2 linked regions of the Homo sapiens genome follow. The protein of the gene in region 2 interacts with the protein of the main gene of each other region in a pairwise test. Each region holds a gene or a part of one and is shown on either strand. Other genes may lie near its edges.

Evidence for each region. The genes of interacting proteins can lie anywhere in the genome.
Region 1: the proteins of PALS1 (region 2) and LIN7C interact in binary tests that used the Homo sapiens proteins (3 or more experiments, as listed by UniProt).

The regions. Positions count from the first base shown.
Region 1 is NC_000011.10:27,493,763-27,496,769, reverse strand, and holds the end of LIN7C (protein lin-7 homolog C), read left to right. Parts: 3' UTR 1-2,352; downstream 2,353-3,007. UniProt on the Homo sapiens protein: Plays a role in establishing and maintaining the asymmetric distribution of channels and receptors at the plasma membrane of polarized cells.
Region 2 is NC_000014.9:67,314,363-67,318,117, forward strand, and holds part of PALS1 (protein PALS1), read left to right. Parts: intron 1-2,469; coding exon 2,470-2,541; intron 2,542-3,045; coding exon 3,046-3,117; intron 3,118-3,755. UniProt on the Homo sapiens protein: Plays a role in tight junction biogenesis and in the establishment of cell polarity in epithelial cells.

The DNA of each region.
Region 1 (3,007 bases), on a different chromosome or scaffold from region 2:
TATAAATTATAGCTTCCTGGTTCTGTGTCTCAGCTGTTTCAGAACTTTCAGCCAAGTTAAATCTTTTTTGGTGTTGAAACTTTTAGTAAGTTGAGTAAGCTATTTTTTTCCCTACGGTAATCCACAATCTGTTCTTTGTGTGGGTTGACACCTATTTATAATTCTTAAAATAAGGGTAGCTCAAAGGAGCCAAGTACAGTAGTTTAGCTTGCTACTGTTGAGCATGAATAGCAGTAGGTTGTTTTCATTAATGCAGTTTTCATAATGTATCCCAGAATTTTAAATCTTGACCATAGAAAAATACAGTCATTCATTGGCAAAGATGTACAGTGGTGGTTTAGTGCAGTGAGGAAATGATGGGAATTTTTATCTTAGAAATGGATGATTCGTGAATAAAACTAGGTACATAGTAAGTGTATGATAGATGTTTGATTTGTAAATTACAAATATAAATTATCACCCCCATTTCCATTTATTTTCTTGATATATCAAAATGTGTTGACTTAGTGATTCTCAATCTTAGCTACATATTAGCCTGGCAGAGCTTTAAAAAATTGATACCTGGGTCCTATTCCATAACAACTAAATCAAAATCACCCTTTTTTTTTTTTTTGTAAAGCTTTCCAGGTGGTTCTAAAGGACACCTAGGGTCAATAACCCATTATAAAATGATCTGATTACACTGGACACTCTTAGGAAGTATCAAAATAGAACAGTTCAATTTGCAGCTACTTAATGATTAATTACATTTCTTAGGTTTTTTTTTTGTTTTTTTTTTGGTTTGTTTGTTTTTTGTTTTAAAAGAGACAGGATCTTGCTTTGTCTCCCAGGCTGGAACACAGTGGTGTGATCATAGCTCACTGCAGCCTGAAACTCCTTGGCTTCCACCTCAGCCTCCCAAAGCATTAGGATTATAGGCGTGAGCCACTGCACCTGGCCAAGTAATTTCTTTTAGGAATAAAAGGTACTTGGCATTCCTTATTTGGGAAGTAATTACAGTCTTATCTTTTTTTTTCTTTTTTCTTTTTTTTAATAAAATCTACCAGTAATTTAAATGTGAGCTTTTTATGTCTGTCATCATTCTGCCCCCTTTGCCTTTAAAACTTACAAAAATACGTGTTTGTTATTTGAGAAAGCATGTTTAAAAATTGCAGATGAGAAATATTGTCGTTAATAATTATGTACTGTCTTAATGTGGGCACTTCATTTGTTAGTATAATACTAGATAATAGCAGCCTAGTTCTTTAGGATTTGACGATTCAAATTTTTTTTTTGTTTTTTGTTTTTGTTTTTTTTTGAGACAGAGTCTTGCTCTGTTGCCCAGGCTGGCGTGCAGTGGTGTGATCTCGGCTCACTTCAGCCTCCGCCACCTCAAGGCAGTTCAAGCAATTCTCCTGCCTCAGCCTCCCGAGTAGCTAGGACTACAGGCGTGTGCCACCTCTCCCGGCTAATTTTTTTGTATTTTTAGTAGAGACGGGGTTTCACCGTGTTAGCCAGGATGATCTCGATCTCCTGACCTCGTGATTCGCCCGCCTCGGCCTCCCAAAGTGCTGGAATTACTGGCGTGAGCCACCATGCCCAGCCTCAAATATGTTTTTAAAAAATATCATTGTCCTCCTCCTCTTAAGATTTTTTTAAGTTATTTTGCTCAAGTACTTAAGTAGTCTGGCTCAAGTACTTTGTTTACAATTAAAATGGATATTATAGCATTTAATAGAAGAAATGGTTATGGCTTATCCAAAAAGAATGTCAGCATGACCTGGTGTAGACTTAAAAAACTACATGTTTGTGAATATTTTATAATGTGGAATGATCATTGAAATATCAAGGATTCTAGTAATTGTATTTCCTGAATAAATGTATGTTTATGAATTTTCTAACTTACATTTTGTTGTGTCCTCTGCCAACAATCTGGTTTTATAATTGTTGTCTAAAGTTTGCTAGTAGTGTTTCTTCAAAGGTTATTCCAGGTATGGTTAAGTAGTGAGAAAAATCACTTATTAATTTTCAAGAACTTTGAGACTAATTTGTATTGACTCGGTTTTTTAAAATAACTGGCAAATGCTATGCTTCTACTTTTAAAATTTGTGGTAATACCCAGAATGGATGTAAAATAACATTTTTCAATAGATTACTTCATTTATCAATTTAATTCTGATTTTAAGGCTTATTTAAAATAAATTTGTATGAGTTATGTCCTCGTTCTTTGGATTTGAAAAAAGTTGATATAACTACACAATAGATAACGTTTATGAAAGGTATGTATAAAAAAACATAATTCCTGGTGGCTGCTGAAATGAAACTTTGAATTTCTATATTTTGCTTTGTCTTTCATAAAATTTAAAGAAAACATTTTCTTGTGTTATTTCAAGAGCGGCAGTATGACGTGATTGAGAGCACAGATTCTGAAGCCAAACAACTCTGGTTTCAATCCCAGTTCCACCATTACCGTGTGTCACCTTAGACAGGTTGCTTGATTTCTTTGTGCCTTAGTTCCCTCACCTGTCATTTGTTAATAAGAATGCCTGTAAGTGTCATGCCATTTTCTGTAAGGCCCTTAAAAAGGTGCCTGGCATAGTAAATACTGTTTGTGTTTGCTTTTGTTCATGTAAAATAGCTTCAGAACCTTATGAGCTAAAGGAAATAATTCTGGTCAAAAAATTAAAATTAGCAAGTTTTTATTTTTGGTATTTAGAAAACAACCTTTATGCTTAAAAACTTTAGAAGAATAAGATTCATAAGAAATTATCAAATTTATATTTTGATCAAAGAAACTCGGAATTTTTAAATTGGAGCTTTGAGGATTGAAGCCATATTCTAATGAAAATCATTGGAAAATAAGTCCAAGTAAGGATTTGTTAAATTAACCTTTAAGGTGATGACCTAGGCATAGAGACAGGAGACTACTGGACTAGGTGTTAGACAGTCCAAGGCATCACCACCATTAACTTTAAAAAAGTGTGGAAATGTGCCACACAGCCGAGGAACAACAAAAAGCATTTAGTGT
Region 2 (3,755 bases):
TTTATTCTTTTTGAGTATAAGGTCACAGAAAGCTTCAAATTTCTCACTTTAAAACTCAGAGGCTAGAAACAGATTTTGTCTATATCAGTCATATTTTAAGGAAGGAGGAATGGACTTCTTACATTTATTTTAGAGTATGATGCTAAAACCCGTGATTCTTCAGAGTAACAGTTACAGGACATTTCTCTAGAATCTTGGAGTGTTGGGTAGCCATTGTGGTTCTGCCTCAGGCTTGTGCCAAATATCAGTATGGTGTCTTCCTACCATGCCGAACTTTAGCCCATAAATGTTTAGAACTAGTGTTTGTTGATAGATTGATTTTCTGAAAGTATATAGATTCCAATGATGACATTTCTAAGTCTTTTTATAAGACTAAAGATCTGCCTTAGAGTTTGACGATGGCTTTCCATCAGAATTAGACAGATTTTTTTAAGAGGTCATTATGAGGCTGGCCCTGGTGGCTCACACCTGTAATCCCAGCACTTTGGGAGGCTGAGGTGGGAGGATTGCTTGAGCCCAGGAGTTTGAGACTAGCCTGGGCCACATAGTGGCATAGCTGACATAATGAGACTTTGTCTCTACAAAAAATTTAAAAATTAGCTGGGCATGGTGGTGCGTACCTGTAGTCCCAGCTATTCAGGAGGCTGAGGTGGAAGGATTGCATGAGGCTGGAAGGTTGAGGCTGCAGTGAGCTTTGATCACACCAGTGTAACAGAGCAGTCTCAGAAAAAGAAAGAAAATCATTTCCATCTCTCATTAATTTCTGCCTCTATTTCAGAATAGCCTATAGTTCATACTACAAAAAGTGCCACAGAAGTACATCATTGTAATGTTTTACATTTTTAATATGTAAATGATTAAAATTACTTTGTTCTTGATTTTTAAAAATCGGTTACTTATTTTTAATTTTTTTTTTTTTTTTTTTTTTTTTTGAGACAAAATCTCGCTCTGTCTCCCAGGCTGGAGTGCAGTGGCATGATCTCAGCTCACTGCAAGCTCCGCCTCCCGGGCTCATGCCCTTCTTCTCTCTCAGTCTGCTGAGCAGCTGGGACTACAGGTGCCCACCACCACGCCCAGCTGATGTTTTGTATTTTTAGTAGAGATGGGGTTTCACCGTGTTAGCCAGGATGGTCTTGATCTCCTGACCTCGTGATCTGCCCACCTTGGCCTCTCAAAGTGTTGGGATTACAGGCATAAGCCACTGCACCCGACCCCTTTAAATTTTAATACTCTTAAAATTTTCCTTCTAGTAATAGTTACTTGTACTAAGAATACAGTCTTGGCCGTGCACAGTGGCTCATGCCCCTAATCCTGGCACTTTGGGAGGCCAAGCAGGAGGATCACCTGAGATTAGGAGTTTAAGACCAGCCTGGCCAACATGGTGAAACCGAGCCTCTACTAAAAATACAACCATTAGCTGGGCATGGTGGCGGGCCCCTGTAATCCCAGCTGCTCGGGAGGCTGAGGCATGCGAATCCCTTGAACCTGGAAGGCGGAGGTTGCGGTGAGCCAAGATTGCGCCACTGCACTCCAGCCTGGGTGACAGAGCGAGACTTCGTCTCAAAAGATAACCAGGCTTCCTTTAATGCTTCTTATGTGTATGGAAGTCAGTATTAATCTTTTTGTTAGTACACTTACGAAATGCACTAAGTTCTACAGATTATCCCCACCTATGTAGAATTTGCTTATTGATTTTTAAGAATCTCTGGCTTTACACTGAAAAAAAGTAGATTTAAAAATAAAATAAAAAAGTGGAACCTCAACGTAATTCAGAATCTTCTAAGTGAAGCCACTTGTATCCTATAGGAAAAGACATATTTGATTTAAAGTAGAAGTCGGAAAAGAAAACCTCTTTCAAGGTCAGGAACCTTGAAAGCCTCCTATATTAAAATATTAATTTTGTAAGGAAAAGCACGTTTTCCATTTATATAATTGGTAACTTAAGGGTGGAAATAAAAAATGGCTAACACATATACATACACAAAAGAAGAGGAATTGAGAATAATGCATGCAAGGGAATATACTGAATGGTTTCTTGGAATTGAATATGGAATTGAATATGTGATGAATGCGCACATGTTGTTTTGGAAAAGTTAATTCCTAGAATTGATATCCTTAATTTGAGATAATTCTAAAGGACCTAGAACCATTGTAAGATCCAGGATAGTACTTTTCCACAAAGTAAATGCTCAATGAAACCTTTTAAAAAGTTGAACTATTAAATTTTTAAATATTTTAGTAGATGATATGTATTCTAATAATACATATGGGATTGATTGAGCAGAGTTAATATTTTAAAAATTTGGAGGCTTACACATCATAGCTGACATTACTCCTGTGTTGGCAAAAGGATTTGGAAGGGAATATAAGTGAAGAGATATGTCTAGTGTTTTCCCTTCTTGATTAAAAAAAAAATTCTTATCCTTTTATCTTAAATATTTTACCCTTCTTTTTCTTTCTGCTATTAAGGGAAAAGCTTTCAGCAGCAAAGGGAAGCCATGAAACAAACCATAGAAGAAGATAAGGAGCCAGAAAAATCAGGTTAGACACTTGTATTTGACATAAGTAAATGGTTTCTTGGGTCTTCATCTGGAGCCATGTGTGAATCTGCATATTAGAACCGTGAAGAAGTACTCAGGGAAAGAGTGATACAAGAGGCAAAACTGATTATCTCAGAACTGTAAAGAAAGGATAAGATTTAAGTATTAAAGATTATCTGTCTATACTGTGTAGTTAATTGAAAATTGTAAATGCTTTCCTGAAAAATAGTCTTTATACAAACAGTGTAATAAGTATTTATAAAAGTAAATTAAAAACAAGCTGGGTGTGGTGGTTTGCACCTGTAATCCCAGCACTTTGGGAGACTGAGGCGGGAGGATCACTTGAGGCCAGGAGTTCAAGACAAGCGTGGCCAACATATGGAGATCTCGTTTCTGCAAAAAAATTTAAAGAATAAATGAATGAATAAATAGAGTTCTTCAATTTGAGTTATGTGGTTTTGTTCACGGGAACACATTTATAGTTATGTTTATGATTGCTCAACAGGAAAACTGTGGTGTGCAAAGAAGAATAAAAAGAAGAGGAAAAAGGTTTTATATAATGCCAATAAAAATGATGGTAAGTTCTACTCTCAGGGATAGGTGGAATTATATCTGAAAGGAGTCTAAACCTAGTCCTGTTTTGCACCTTAATGTTAAATATGTGCTTGAGAAAATCATTTAGTAGAAAGTATTTTCTTTTGGAATCCTGTGAGTAAGGCAGTGTTTTGAATTCTGGGGAAAACTGATACAAAAATTCAAGTACTATTTAGCATATGTAGTATTAAATTGACAGTTTCCTGTAGTTTTTTTCTACTTAAACTCTTTGCAAAAATTATACTTCTAACAAATTCTTACAGAACATACTTGAAGTAAAAACTATGTCCTCTACAATAGCTCATGTCACAGAAGCAACTCATTCCTGAGAACCCACTACCTGCTGGCTAAGTCAGACACACAAGAGAATTTTAGTTTTATTTTGATTGATTGCTAAGATTAAAAAGCTCGAAAGTTGTAGCTTCTCTTAAAATCAAAAGCTCTGATAATGTTGGGCTAGTATTCCTAGGTGACAACAGTCTGCTGGACCTGAGTGATGACTGTTGCTCTTATATCAAGCACCTGGTGTCTAGTTTAACAGTCTCTACCACTCCCAGTGTTTTATTAACCCAACCTGATTTACTGATTTTATTACCTCCTTAGTTTGTTTTTATGGGCATT